Linked DNA regions of Homo sapiens. The protein of the gene in region 4 interacts with the protein of the main gene of each other region in a pairwise test. Each region holds a gene or a part of one and is shown on either strand. Other genes may lie near its edges.

What was found. The genes of interacting proteins can lie anywhere in the genome.
Region 1: the proteins of DSCAM (region 4) and MAP4K4 interact in a two-hybrid assay, tested with the Homo sapiens proteins (one large-scale study listed by BioGRID and IntAct).
Region 2: the proteins of DSCAM (region 4) and SUPT5H interact in a two-hybrid assay, tested with the Homo sapiens proteins (one large-scale study listed by BioGRID and IntAct).
Region 3: the proteins of DSCAM (region 4) and WDR59 interact in a two-hybrid assay, tested with the Homo sapiens proteins (one large-scale study listed by BioGRID and IntAct).

The regions. Positions count from the first base shown.
Region 1 is NC_000002.12:101,704,207-101,707,706, forward strand, and holds part of MAP4K4 (mitogen-activated protein kinase kinase kinase kinase 4), read left to right. Parts: intron 1-3,500.
Region 2 is NC_000019.10:39,455,582-39,459,081, reverse strand, and holds part of SUPT5H (transcription elongation factor SPT5), read right to left. Parts: intron 1,408-3,500; coding exon 1,342-1,407; intron 789-1,341; coding exon 777-788; intron 265-776; coding exon 195-264; intron 78-194; coding exon 9-77; intron 1-8. UniProt on the Homo sapiens protein: Component of the DRB sensitivity-inducing factor complex (DSIF complex), which regulates mRNA processing and transcription elongation by RNA polymerase II.
Region 3 is NC_000016.10:74,887,624-74,891,123, forward strand, and holds part of WDR59 (GATOR2 complex protein WDR59), read right to left. Parts: intron 2,193-3,500; coding exon 2,080-2,192; intron 697-2,079; coding exon 546-696; intron 133-545; coding exon 60-132; intron 1-59. UniProt on the Homo sapiens protein: As a component of the GATOR2 complex, functions as an activator of the amino acid-sensing branch of the mTORC1 signaling pathway. The GATOR2 complex indirectly activates mTORC1 through the inhibition of the GATOR1 subcomplex.
Region 4 is NC_000021.9:40,077,491-40,081,432, forward strand, and holds part of DSCAM (cell adhesion molecule DSCAM isoform CHD2-42 precursor), read right to left. Parts: intron 2,851-3,942; coding exon 2,662-2,850; intron 1,488-2,661; coding exon 1,197-1,487; intron 1-1,196. UniProt on the Homo sapiens protein: Cell adhesion molecule that plays a role in neuronal self-avoidance. Promotes repulsion between specific neuronal processes of either the same cell or the same subtype of cells.

The DNA of each region.
Region 1 (3,500 bases), on a different chromosome or scaffold from region 4:
CACTGAGAGGCATGTTCAGGCTTGTTCTGAGACATAGATTTCCTTCATGTGGAAGATTCTGGACTTGGACAAGGTGGGAGGAAGCCAGCCCTGTTGAGCAAGCCCTGCTCTCAAAGAGTTTCAACCCTTACTTTCAAAAACTGTTTTACTAACTCAAACATCAAAAGCTCTACAGAAAAGCCAACCACCAAACAAAACCCTGCTGATGATGGGTTTTTAACTCCTTACTGCTTGAAACTTTGTGATAAATGTACATTTATTTGCCTAGCTGCAAACTCAACTCGTATTTTGCCTTTTTTCTTAACCAATATTTTATGTGTGTGTGTGTGTGTGTGTATATATATATATATATATATATATATTTTTTTTTTTTTTTTTTTTTTTGAGATGGTGTCTCGCTCTGTCGCCCAGGCTGGAGTGCAGTGGTGTGATCTCGGCCCACTGCAAGCTCTGCCTCCCAGGTTCAAGCGACTCTCCTGAGTAGCTGGGACTACAGGTGCATGCCACCAAGCCTGGCTAATTTTTGTATTTTTAGTAGAGATGGGGTTTCACCATATTGGCCAGGCTGGTCTCGAACTCGAGTCAGGGTAAAGTTTTTAGACATACAGGGAAAGATGACTAGGAAGAAAATGGAGAAGGCCAAGGTAATCTTATATTTATTACCAGTGACCATTGTGGCAGCAATGGTTGTTAGGTTTTATAATGTTATATCACTGCTCACCAAACAGAATTTGTTCTTTTGTTATGGAGCAGGTTCAGTAATAAGAGTTGGTGAGTATTATTCAGAAGAGAAGCTGCCTCTTGGGTTGAGTAATTAATAAAGTGATTCATTGGGAGGTAGTTTTTGTCTGTAAGAATCTCTAAGGAATGATCACAATGATAAGTTTTAGGACATCCCGTTTTAAAAACTGGACTCTTACAAACTTTGTTATCTAGATAGCATTAGGTATAACTAAATTGGGGAGACAAAAGTGAAAAACGATTAACCATATAAGGGTGGTTTCATGCAGGTACTGTGGATGTGTGCTGGGCCCTGTTCTGAGAGTTAGATACACAGTGGTAAATGAAGCCGATGATATATCTACCCTTATGGAACTCAAGAAAAACAGGGGGATGGACACAAAATGCCAGCTGTGGGATGTCAGTCATACATTCTGTGTTGTCTGCATCTCCCTGGGTTCCCTGCCCAGCACACTTGTGTTCAGACACAATGAATGCACTGACACATGGAAACAGCACATACTGCAATGTGTTCATTTTAAGTGGCTCAACCTCATCAGCAGGGCTTCTCTGTGCTTTAAATTACAGTAAAAACAAATGAAAAGTGAAATGAAAAGGTAGACATATAGAATATCAGTCTACTTTTTTTACTCGTAGAATCAAAAGACATTTTCCCATGTCAAATTGCTGTAAAAGTTTTTGTTTTTGTTTTCTTTTTAAAAAAGTATAAGAAACTCAGGTGATATAAAAGTTTTTATATACTTTTAATTTCAGAAATGATCTTGCTGTGGTCAGCAGACCACACTTTGAGGAACACTGAACTGGCAGGATTGAATTTGTAGCAGGGCTCTTAGTAAACTGTGGGTGGTTGGTGTGTTAGTGAGCTGGAGAATTGAGGACTGTTGTTTGTGCCTAGTATTTGGTTCTCCCACCCTTTGAACATTGGGGAGCTACAGCAGGTGCTGCTTACAGCTTTATGCTTTAGTGCCAAAACGTCTTTGACCCCTGTGCTTTGGAACTGTCTCAGATATGGCTAAATATGAACAAGTTATCCTATTAAATTTAAATAAATGAAAGAAAAACCCCACTTTTACATTATAACTTTAAAAAATCCTTCATATGATAAATAGGGCCTTAACTTACCAGTTATGAATCGATAGTTATAATCAAATGATACTAAAGCGCTCATACCAAAAGTCAGAGTCATCCTGTTCTCCAGAAGCATGTTTTCAGTGCTTTTAGCTGCTACATCTGAAATTTATTGCTATATTTGTAAATTATGTACTTATGTGGCTAGTTCATTTATCAGTTTTATACATTTATTGACGTCCTCTAGCAGTAGTTGTAGTTATTGAACTAGTTAGTTCAATAGTAGTTGAATATTTAACTCCTATACTTGCTGCCTCCCTTAAGTGGGCATACCATAATTTTGGGTTAAAGTGATAGTTGTTTCTTTTATCATGACTATGTAAATACCATTTATATGTGAGCTAAACAGTCTCATACGATTACATTTCCTTTTTTAAACAACACCCCTGCCCCCACATCGCTTTTAGTTTTTCATTTGCTTAGTTTTCTTTGTACCTATCATCACCTTCCTCCTCAGATACCCTAAAAGGTATAACAAATGCCTAACAAAGTTTAGTCTTTATCACATTTTCCAAATGCTTAATTTAACACCACACGTCAGATAATTTATTGTTGCAAGATAACCTGTTGATTTCAATTTTTTCTCCCTGGAGTTTCCTCATAGCTATGCAGGTATGGTTGCCCCTGGACCTGGCATGTAGCTATTATTGTCCTGGAATGTCTGTTTCCTGGATACTGCAGTCTTCCTTTTTGGTTTACTATCTTACTTTCCTGAAGCACATCCTCTAGTAGTTTTAAAAGAAAGGGTATATGGGTATTAAGGTTTTAAGTCCTTGTATGGCTGAAAATCCCTTTTTCTTATCACTGCCTCATCTTCTCTTGTCTGGAACATAACTGCTTTCGATTTCTTTAGGGACTAAATCTCTGGTTTCCTGTGGGTATGGAGTGATGTGAGGCAGTTACCAGACTGTGTAAGGCAGAGAAAGGGGACCTGGGGCTTTCAACCACTAAATATGCAAACTTTCATCAGTTCTGATTTTGGCCTTGCACCTCACTTGGTATTGGTTTATTCCAAATGATGACCTTGTCAGGGTTTTGTAGGTCCAACTGTCTCACTTCTTTTTGGTATCCTTTAGTAGGCACTTAGGTTGTAATTTTTACCTCTTAGTTACTACTCCATCCACTTTTTATTTTATCTTTTTTTTTTTTTTTTTTGAGACAGTCTCACTGTTGCTTAGGCTGGAGTGCAGTGGCGCCATCTTGGCTTACTGTAGCCTCCGCCTTGTGGGTACAAGCAATTCTCTTGCCTCAGCCTCCCAAGTAGCTGGGACTGCAGGTGCGGACCACCATGCTCGGCTAATATTTGTACGTTTAGTAGAAATGGGGTTTGACTATGTTGGCCAGGCTGTTATCGAACTCCTGACCTCAGGTGATCCCCCTGCCTGGGCCTCTCAAAGTGCTGGGATTACAGGCATGAACCACTGCCCCTGGTCTGCCTGTCTGTCTGTGTCTTTTGAGACAGAGTTTTGCTCTGTCCCCCAGGCTGCAGTACAGTGGTGTGATCACAGCTCACTGCAGCCTCAACCTCCTGGGCTCAAGCAAACTTCCCACATCAGCCTCTTGAATAGCTGGGACTACAGGTGTGCACCACCATGTCCAGCTAAGTTTTTTTTTTTTGTTTTTTTTTTTTT
Region 2 (3,500 bases), on a different chromosome or scaffold from region 4:
GCCCTTACGTCTCTCCCACAGATGACTTGGCGTATTTCTTCATGTAATACTCGCCCAGTTCTTCTTCTCGCTGGTCCCTGGAGCACGAGTGGGGAAGCAAACACGAATTGAAGGTTGAGGACAGCAGGTGGGCTGACCTACTCCCAAATCTCCCCACAGGAGCCAATCCCACCACGTTTCCCTTCCTTGCCCACCTCCAGAGGTTTTGCAGGCGGCGAGCCCCAGAACGATCTTCATCCAGGACAACATTATCGATATTGGAGGCTGAAAAATAATGGGCAGAGGGCGTGAGCAAGGGCAGGTGGAGGGCAGGGGCCTGGAGAAAATAGGAGCGTGCAGCTAAGAGGGCCAGGGTTTGGCCCTGGGGCAGGAAGATGACATCTCACAGAGGAAATCCCAACCCCTCATCCCCTACTCTGTCCTACTCAGCATCCTGCTTCTTGTCAAAAAGACTGGGGATGGGGCCCAGCAAGTTGGGGGGCTTCCAGCTGTTCCCATCTCAAAGTCCAGGCACACCCTGGACTGCACCCCACCCCACACATCGCTACCACCCACAAATGCTCAGTCCCAGACAGACACATCCGTGCTTTCCCAGGTCAACAACTGGGGTATACCTGGCCCCAGAACTCCCTGACTCTGGATCCTACATGGGTCAGAGCCCTCAGGGCCAGACCGGGGCTGGTGGGGAGGCTACCGGTGAGGGCAGGTGCCTCAGGAAGGAGGAAATGTCAGGATATGGGAGGAAGGTCAGGGAATCACACTTTTCATATTCTTACCTTCAATCTCTTCTACTTGGAGGAAGAGGAGGTGGTGGTGGTGGTGGTGGTGGTGGTGGTGGTGGTGGTGGTGGGCGAGGGCAGACAAAGTATGAGCCAAATTATAGCAGCAAAATCAACCAATGGGTTGGGGGAGGGGAAGGGAGGGACACAGAAAGGTTGAAAACCAAAAGTAAAGGCCAGGCACCAGGTGGTTGGGGAGAAGCCGAAATGTATGAGGCGCACAGAACGGAAAATAACGGGGAAAGGGGGGCACTGGCCCAGGAAGTGGGGGGTATCTTGGGACAGAGCTCGCCCACCCTACAACCCCAGAAGGGATTCACTGGGCCCTGGGATCCCAGAGTCCTCTCCCCACAACATCCCCACCCCAGGGCCCCACCCCCCACTCATGGGCCTAAAAGGAAAAAGCAGGGAGCTGGTCTCTCTGGGAAGGACAGAAAGAAGCAAGGTGAGGACGGTGGGAGTTGGGGTGTACAGGGGATGCGGGGGTCGGGGGAATGGGCTCTGAAGACCCTCTCAGCCACCCTCTTCCCAGTAGTCTTGTGGAGGCAGGGCTCACACACACCTTTCTCTAGAATGTCCTCTGCTCCATCCTCCCACTGGTCCTCGTCCTCATACTCATCGTCAACATCTAAAACGGAAAGGCCAAGTGGTAAGTGGCAAAGGTGACCTCATAACAGCTCCCAGGACACGAAGCATCTCCTCTGGGAGATGTGCACTACAAATCCCCACCGCACAGAGCAGGACACTGAGGCTCCAACAGGGAGGCACTCGTCTGGGGCCGTGCCACAGAGCTGGTGCACGCATCAGGATCGAGGGGGACATACAGCTCCAACTAACTCTAAAAGTCATCCCCTCTCCTTACTCCACTCCCAAATCCCTTTTAAAAAACTAAGATCAAAGTAAGCAAAAAGAAAAGTTCCCTCCCAACTATCAGAAAATGATCAATAAATAGTTTTTTAAAAGATGGTTCATGGTCTGTTGGTTTTATGATTCTTGTACATTTATAACAGCTAATGCTGAGAGCATACTATACACCCTGCCCTGTTCTGAGTACCTGACACAGGTTCCTCACTGATCTTCCTGGCAACCCCGAGGGAGGCACTATCGTTGTTCCTATTTTACAGCAAAGGCTCTGAGACCCAGAGAGATTAAGGAACTTGCCCACAGACTCAGCTGGGATCTGAGAGAGGCAGTCTGGCTCCATGGTCCATGTACTTAATCTCTTTACCATGTTGGATGTACTGCTTTGCAGGTATCAAACATTACACTAAAAACGTAATACATGCACATAATGAAAAACTCCAATGTCCATAGAGGATGTAAGTATCAATTAAGTCTCCCTCACATTTCTAACCCCTAGAATCTCAGTAACCTCTCCCAAAGGCAACTCCGTGACTAGTTTCTTGCCTAGAGATATCTGTGTACATATATGAAATCCATGTAAGGCTGGACGTGGTGGCTCACACCTGTAATCTCAACACTTTGGGAGGCCGAAGTGGGAAGATCACTTGAGCCCAGGAGTTTGAAACCGGCCTGGGCAACATAGTGAGACCTCCTAAATCCAAAAACTTAAAAAATTAGTTAGGGTTGGGCACGGTGGCTCATGCCTGTAATCCCAGCACTTTGGGAGGCCGAGGCGGGTGGATCATGAGGACAGGAGCTCATGATCAGCCTGGCCAACATGGTGAAACCCCCGTCTCTACTAAAAATACAAAAAATTAGTCAGGTATGGTGGTGGGCGCCTGTAATCCCAGCTACTCGGGAGGCTGAGGCAGAGAATTGCTTGAACCCGGGAGGTGGAGGTTGCAGTGAGCCAAGATCACACCACTGCACTCCAGCCTGGGCAACAGAGGGAAACTCCGTCTCAAAAACAACAACAACAACAACAACAACAAAAAAAAACAGTCTAGTCAGGCCTGGTGATGCACACCTGTGGTCCCAGCTACTCAGGAGGCTGAGGTGAGAGGATCACTTGGACCTGGGAGGTAGAGGCTGCAGTGAGCCATGATCATGCCACTGAACTCCAGCCTAGGAAACGGAGTGAGATCCTGTCTTTAAAAAAAAAAAGAAAAAAGAAAAAAAAAAGGTCTGGGCACAATGGCTCATGCTTATAATCCCCGCACTTTGGGAGGCCGAGATGGGTGGACCACCTGAGGTCAGGAGTTCGAGACCAGCCTGGCCAACATGGTGAAACCCCGTCTCTACTAAAAACACAAAAATTAGTGGCACACGCCTATAATCCCAGCTACTCGGGAAGCTGAGACAGGAGAATCCCTTGAATCCGGGAGGCAGAGGTTGCAGTGAGCCGAGATCACACCACTGCACTCCAGGGTGGGCAAGAGAAACTCCGTCTTAAAAAAAAAAAAAAAAAAAAAAAGAAGAGGCGGGGCGCAGTGGTTCACGCCTGTAATCCCAGTACTTTGGGAGGCCAAGGTGGGTGGATCATGAGGTCAGGAGTTCGAGACCAGCCTGGCCAACATGGTGAAACCCTGTCTCTACTAAAAATACAAAAATTAGCTGGGCGTAGTGGCAGGCACCTGTAATCCCAGCTACTCGGGAAGCTGAGGCAGGAGAAGCACTTGAAACCAGAAGGTGGAGGTTGCAGTGAGCTGAGATTGCACCACTGCACCCCAGCCTGGGTGAAAAAGCGAAACTCCATCTCAAAAAAAAAAAAAGAAGAAAAGAAAAGAAATGCATGTAATCCACCCCGCCACCACTATG
Region 3 (3,500 bases), on a different chromosome or scaffold from region 4:
TATGCACAGCTCTGGGAGAACTAAAAATCCAGCGTGGGCTAAGTCATTTCCATACAAACCTATGTTCCAGCCGCCAGTGTTGAGCCCTGGGTCTGACATACTGGAGCAGGAACCAGAAGAGGTAAAGCTAGGCTACAGAAGGGAAGAGAAGAACCAACAGGACTAGCATGAGAATACCATTCCCCATGACAGTTCACATTAAGAAAACAGCAGGCCAAGCACGGTGGCTCATGCCTGTAATCCTAGCAGTTTGGGAGGCCAAGGAAGGTGGAACACCTGAGGTCAGGGGTTCGAGACCAGCCTGGCCAACATGGTGAAACCTCATCTCTACTAAAACCACAAAAATATACCAAGAGTGGTGGTGCATGCCTGTAATCCCAGCTATTCAGGAGGCTGAGGCACGAGAATTGCTTGAACCCAGGAGGCGGAGGTTGCAGTGAGCTGAGATCATGCCATTGCACTCCAGCCTGGGCAACAAAGTAAAACTCCGTCTCAAAAAAAAAAAAAAAAAAAAATCAGACAAAACCAGAAAAGGACAAACTTACATATCGACTATGGGACACCACAAGATTAGAAGAACGGTTAGGAAAAGGCCCAAAGGGGTTTGGTAGCCCCTGAGGCCGAGACTGGGCTTCAAACACGCTACAGAGCATCGCCAGTGTCTGAACATCCCGGAGCCGGCAATAGTGAGCCAACCTGAGGAAAAGATAAGAGGAAAGAAAACAAGTCAGGAGGAGGGATTGAGGAGGAAAGCGGTCACAGTCATGGCGTGTTACTGCCACAGGGGTGGGAAGGGAGGAGTCTTGATTCTGCCTCAAAAACCCATCAGGAAATGGGGCTTTCTACAGATCCGGCAGTTTGACCTACTTTGAGTTTGCCTAAACTTGTTTTGGAATATAAGGCATCCACGTACTACAAATGATCTACAGAACGCATCTCAAAGCCTCTGGCTAACTTTCAGGCATGGGCTTAAACATGAATGTGGCTTCTCCAAGAACTAAGTGGACTAACCTGACATCTGAGCGAGCCAATACATGCTCTGTCTTCCCAGCTCCAAGGAAGAATCACACTGCTTTTGGGGGATTCCCACACATGTCATTTATATAACCTAAAGCTACATGAAGGAGCTCAGAGGACACTGGACCGCCACAGCATGCTAGCAGGCAATCGACTCTGGAGGTGCAGTTATGAAGATGAGCTATTAGGTAAGAACAACAAGGAGTGTTTCTGTCCTTTAGGTACTCATATCCCCTTTGTCCTTTCAGGAAGATTATGCTAGAATGTGAGTAAGGAATCAGAGGGGCTTTGCCTTTAAGAATGAATAATATTAATGTCCTCCTATCACTCAATGTCTAATATTTGTGTTTTCACACTCACTATCTTATTTGAGTCTTACACGAAATAAGTAGAGTAAACCTTATCATCCCTGTGTTAGTGACAAGGAAACGGAAGCACGAACACGTGTCCCAGGGGTGGCCTTAATGCATAAATTAAGCAAACTTCAACTTGAAGTCAGGAGCGTTTCTCTCCCCAGGCCCTGGGCCTCCAAGTTATGGAGATTCAAGTGGTTTTACTTGGTGTTAAATTATTTTGTATAGTATACCCTAGTTTTCCATATGTCAGTGCAATAAACTGAACGCAAAGGCAATGTTTTCTCAAATTGCCTAACAGGGTGAAAGCGTCGTGGTCTTTGGCAAACATGAACACCAACATGCAATTCTCTAATCCATTCTCAAGGGTGAGACCCTAGAGCTTTCAAGAAGAAACTTACCATCTCATGAGCTCAAACTCCTGTATTCAGACTGATGTGATTTATGGACTAAAGCATGAATCTCTAAAGGATACATGAGTCTCAGGGGTCTCAAATCCTTGTTATAAATGACAAGTAATGTATGGTTCTGTCTGCTATAAGAAGTTTGTTCTGCACAGAAATTATTTCAGCACTGAAAGGAAAGATCCTACTCCTTCCTTTCATTCCTCGGGCCTCTGCACCTTTCTCTTAGGTGGTGACATTTCAAGTGTTTACAGACCAAAAATGGACATCACTCATTTTTCTCATTTTTAGCTCTCAAAACCTACAGGGACTCCAGCAGCTGCCGCCCAAATGGATGTCGAGCCCAGGGTGTTTCCAAATCTGGGTCAGATTTCGGACCAAGGCAAAGATCTGTAGCTACCGTAGCCAGCGACCAAACCTGGACAGATCAAAGAGAAATACAAACTCAAACTGGCAAGGACAAGAACCGAAACCATGAAGCAATCCCACCTGTCTTCCATATAAAACCTGATGCCTTGCTACATTGGGGGCAGCAAAAGCTGGATCCTTATTGAAATGCATAAGTTTAGGCCCCACTTAGACCTACTGAATCAGCGTTTACACTTTAACCAACTCTTTAGGGGAGTTATGTGCACTCTAAAGTTTGAGAAACACTAGGCTTAAAAATTTTTCATTAAGCAAACATCAGAGAAATGACACAGTGTAATAATTTCAGTGGGTCATCTACTTAACCACTAACTCATATGACTTTTTATTTTATTTTACTTTTTTGAGACAGAGTCTCGCTCTGTCGCCCAGGCTGGAGTGCCGTGGCACAATCACAGCTCACTGCCACCTCTGCCTCCTGGGTTCAAGCCATCCTCCTGCCTCAGCCTCCCGAGTATCTAGGATCACAGGCATGTGCCACCACACCTGGCTAATTTTTGTATTTTCAGTAGAGATGGGGTTTTGCCATGTTGGCCAGGCTGGTCTGGAACTCCTGGACTCAAGTGATCCACCTGCCTCAGCCCCAAAAAGTGCTGGGATTACAGGTGTGAGCCACTGCACCCGGCCTCACATGACTTTTTAAAATGCTGTTTCATCAGTAAGTTGGGTTGGCAGGGAGGAAAAAAAAGGCAGTCTATAACACATTTAAGATCTGTCCCTCTTTTCCTAAATAATGAAAGACTTTGTTGCCTTCATTATAAAAGTTTCAGTATCCTCTCTGAAGCTAAAAAGTAACAATAATAACAATAGGCCAAGACAAAATGGATTTGGCTTTCTTTTTGTTGACACCAAATCTGAGGAATACCTCCCCGACTTGAAATCCCATGGGGCCTGGAGCCATTGAGCAGAAACCAATAGCCTCTAAGTGTCTATTAAGTCCAAGGCACAGGCTAAACCCATCATGTCATAAGCAAAGTTCCCACCCCCTCAATACCTTTAAAAATCAAATACGGCGGGCCCTGTGGCTCACGCCTGTAATCTCAGCACTTTGGGAGGCTGAGGTGGGCGAATCACCAGGTCAGGAGTACGAGACCAGCCTGGCCAATATGGTGAAACCCTGTCTCTACTAAAGATACAAAAATTAGCTGGGCATGGTGGCACACGCCTGTAGTCCCAGCTACTTGGGAGGCTGAGGCAGAAGAATCTCTTGAACCTGGGAGGCAGAGGTTGCAGTGAGCCGAGATCACGCCCTGCACTCCAGCCTGGGCGACAGAGCGAGACTCTGTCTCAAAAAAAAAAA
Region 4 (3,942 bases):
CTCTTCTTAGGATGGCATAAACTGTGCTCCAAGGAGCTACCTGCTGGAGCTTTAATAAAGCGGCCTCCCAAATGCACAAAGTAAAGAAAGAATCACTCTCCTAGAGAGCAATGCTGATGCTTTTCATGGGCTGCCTCTGTCTAATTTTACAGCCCTCAGTTATGAGTGACTTCATTGAAAGGCATCCCCTCACAAAGCATCACCCACAGGTAGAGGAGCACTTCCAACGTGGTCTTGGCTTGGCTGTCAATAAAGGGTTTGGGTGTTTCTTGGTTAACTCATTCAACACTGTGGTCTAGCCTGACCAACAGGCAGTGAATAGAAGGCTCTGAGGAGAGTTGCACTGGAGTTCCAACTCATCCTGATGCATTGCTGCCGTTTTTACCTTGCAATTAGAGCACCTAACTCAATCCTTGCTGTTCCCCTAGTGAGAAATGAGCATCAGCCCGCTGCTGCTGGGACTTTCTAAAGTTCCCCTACTAAGTTGCAGTCGAGGACTCGCTCCTTTCAGCTTCACTGGGCTTAGCATTTGTTCAGTTAGCAATAAATGGCCCTTGATACCAGAAAAAATGAGTGAGATTTTAAACCATTTATTTTTGGTTAACTAATGTCAAGAGACACCTCACCTAGTTTTTGGAAAGTAAATGCAAGTGGCAAGTGTGTGTGAGTTTGTGTGTGTGCACGTGTTCATGGATTCCTATTATTATCCTATTTCCATCAGTGGCCCTGCTCCTGCCCAGAGACTAACATAAGCTCCTTTACCATGGAAAATTGTTTTTGCACATGCAGTTTAGGGTGTAATGAGTGCAAAAAAGAAAGTTGTTATGTGGATTGGGATGAGGTGGGGAAAGGGGTGGGAGACAACAAAAGCAATGTTAGCTCATAGACATCAACACAAGCACAGAACCACAGGGTCAAGAGTCCTTCAGCCCTAAGAGAAATCACTCCTGCCCCATGACTCCCCAGTGAGACTCCCTATGGCCCTGAGTCTCTTATTTCTGGACACACAGTGATGGTCATCTGGATATAACGAACTAGGGAGCCCCAGACAGAGTCCATTGAATCCCGAAAGCCTAATGGGCTCCGTGGGCACTGGTCAAACTATGGCAAAGATGATGTTCGATGGGAAAGGGGCAGGGCCCACGTGCACATCCCCCAAGACACAAGCAGGAGAGCCACAAAGCCAGCCAGCTTACTGCCATCGTAGTTCAGCGTAGCGAAGTTGGCCTGCTTCTCCGCGCAGCCCGCACTGTTGCACACCCGCATCTGCAGCTCATACCAGGTGGCTTCCTGCAGGTCATACAGGATGTAGGACTTGGAGAGAGAGGTCCTCTGAGCTGTGGTCCAAACTGTGGTCCCAAAGGGCCTGTACTCTAGTGTGAAGGAGGTGATGGGGCAGCCGCCATCATTCCAGCCAATGAGGTTCAGCCTCACGCGTGTGGTGTTGATGCTGGCAAACAGCTCCTGCTCCTTTGAGAACTGGGGCTCTGGGGGAGAAGGCACATGGAGGTCAGCTCACAGGACACATGGGGAGGCCATCAGCATCTTCACGCATTTCCCTCGGACTGCTTCCTCCAGCGAGGCCAGGAGCTCAGTCCAAGTCTGGCTCACAGGCCACTGGCAACTTGTCCCCTGTTAATAGAGACTTTATGGACCAACAGGCTTTCTCCAACTGTAATGACCTGGGTGTGTGACAGAAAATTGCATGGGTGGAGGTTATTTTGGGGTATCTTAGAGTTCCCTAAAGAACAATAGGATGTTCACATATGGGTTTCCTTCTGTGGTTTGCGGGGCAGTGTGCTGGGCACTTTTTCCATCCTCATGTGATGAACCTGATTCAAGAGAAGACAGAGTTGGATTTGGGAAGCACCAACAGATTTTCCTCCACAACTAAACACTTGGTCTTGGTGCCCAGGGACCTAAAGGATATATTTCTGCATAAATCAATCCCCGATCATTTGACCTCTTACCACTTGTTACCCAAAACTGTGGCACCAGGCACAAATAATACCCTTGCTATCTCATTACTCGCTCTCCTGCCATCTGACCCCACCCCACCTGGTAGGACTCCTATGGGAGGGAAGCCTGCAAAGACATCTCCTCACCTTCTTCCTATGCCCACATAGAGCTGCATCATCCCTCCTTCCTTCTGGAGTTCCTGGGACAAAACCTCTTTCTCTGAATATGATTTCTTTGGGATTCATCTCCTTGAAAGTCCACATTTTAGATTAAAAAAAAAACAAACGCAATTTACCCCATCATTTTCCCTCTGAAAAGCGGTGGCTATGTGGCAATGTGGAAATGATAGGAAGGTGGGAGCAAGGGTGGCTAAGGGAGAAGGGCGCCTCCAAACGGCTGAGAGGGCAAGCGCCACGCTTCATGGCTGCCCAGCCTTGGCACCTCACATTCACACCAACGCCCTTGATTTTCAAACTGACATTCTTCTTTTTAACTGCAAATGAAACAATAAAAGAGAGGACCAGAACACTCTGGAAGGTCCAGCTGTCCCTCTCATTATGCCGTGGCACTGCTGAAGCCATGTGAGGAATGACAAAGTTCAAACACATAAACGTAAAACATGATGGATCTTTTATGATTCCAATCTCCTCTTCTGGCCGGGAAAAGAAAGGATATTAAGAAGCGATGAGAAGGCATACCTACCTTTTCCTAAGGTCTTTGCTTCTATGATTTCACTTATGCGCCCTGGGCCCACTCCATTTTGGGCTGTCAGTGTGAACTTATACCAAGTCCCACATTTGAGATTTTCCAAGCGATAGGAACGTTCGCTGGGGCTGATTGGAAAACTCCCCCACTGCTCACTATTGTCCTCGGAGTACTGCAGTATGTATCCTGCAGAGAATGAGAAAGATTCACATGAGCACTGTGTTTGCTTTCTATGGGAAGTGGACTGATGCTTGCATTTTGTGTGGGTAATAGAACGAGCATTCTCAGAACTGAAGAATCTTCAGAAGGAACATTTTCGCTCTTTCTGATTCCAGGAAATGTAACCCAGCCTGGGAGAAGCACCATGATGTATTGATTAGTGAGTCATTTGGGCCACACCAGACATTATCACTGTGAAGTATTGCTGTTTTCTGCTCATTCTCTTCTAAAAGCCATATTGAGCAGCAGGGAATACTTAAGTTGCCAAATATCTGTCCCTCAGATCATACATGCCTGAATCCTTGAGTGAAGACATAGGCTGAAGCTGTTATTTTTGCAAGACACTCGAATCTCTGGGAAAGGGATACATTATCAATGGGAGTAGAGATTTCTTCAACTGCCTCACTCCTCATGTACTCCTGGTCTCACAGTTCACAGACACTAGGAGAAACAGCTCCAAGTCTTGCAGCCATCCCACTATTCTGACAGTAACCTGGCTTCTCTTTGGTTTGAAAAATTCCTCCAACAATTCATTCCCCCACATGAGCACTACCTCTACTTTTACAACTAGTAAGGATGACTGTCCACTCTAGAGCACTCACTCCATGCCAAGCCCTGTCCTAAGCCCTTTGCTTACAGTATTTCTGCAACCCTATGGAACAGTGACGACTCTCCCACAGAACACGTGGGACACTGAAGTCCAGAGCAGTTAAGCGGTGAGTCCCAAGTGCTGAAAGGAGGATGCAGATCCTGCAGTCAGCCTGAAGCCCATGTTCTTCACCCCTGTGAATGCTGAAATATTCTTCCTGTTAACTCCTTCAGCCCTGTTATCTGCAGCCATGTTCCTTCTCCACCCTGGCTAGCTGGCCTGGAACATGGTGTGTTTGCAACAACGGGTTGGTACCTTCTATTCCTGTCCTGTGGAGCTCCATTTTAATAAAAATAAAGCATTTTTTTTCCCTGCACACTACAGTGTCTCCTAAACCCAAATGGGCAGGTTTGCTGATTTCCACACCCCTTACATGGCGATCACTCATCTCTGATGCCTCCTTCTGAGGT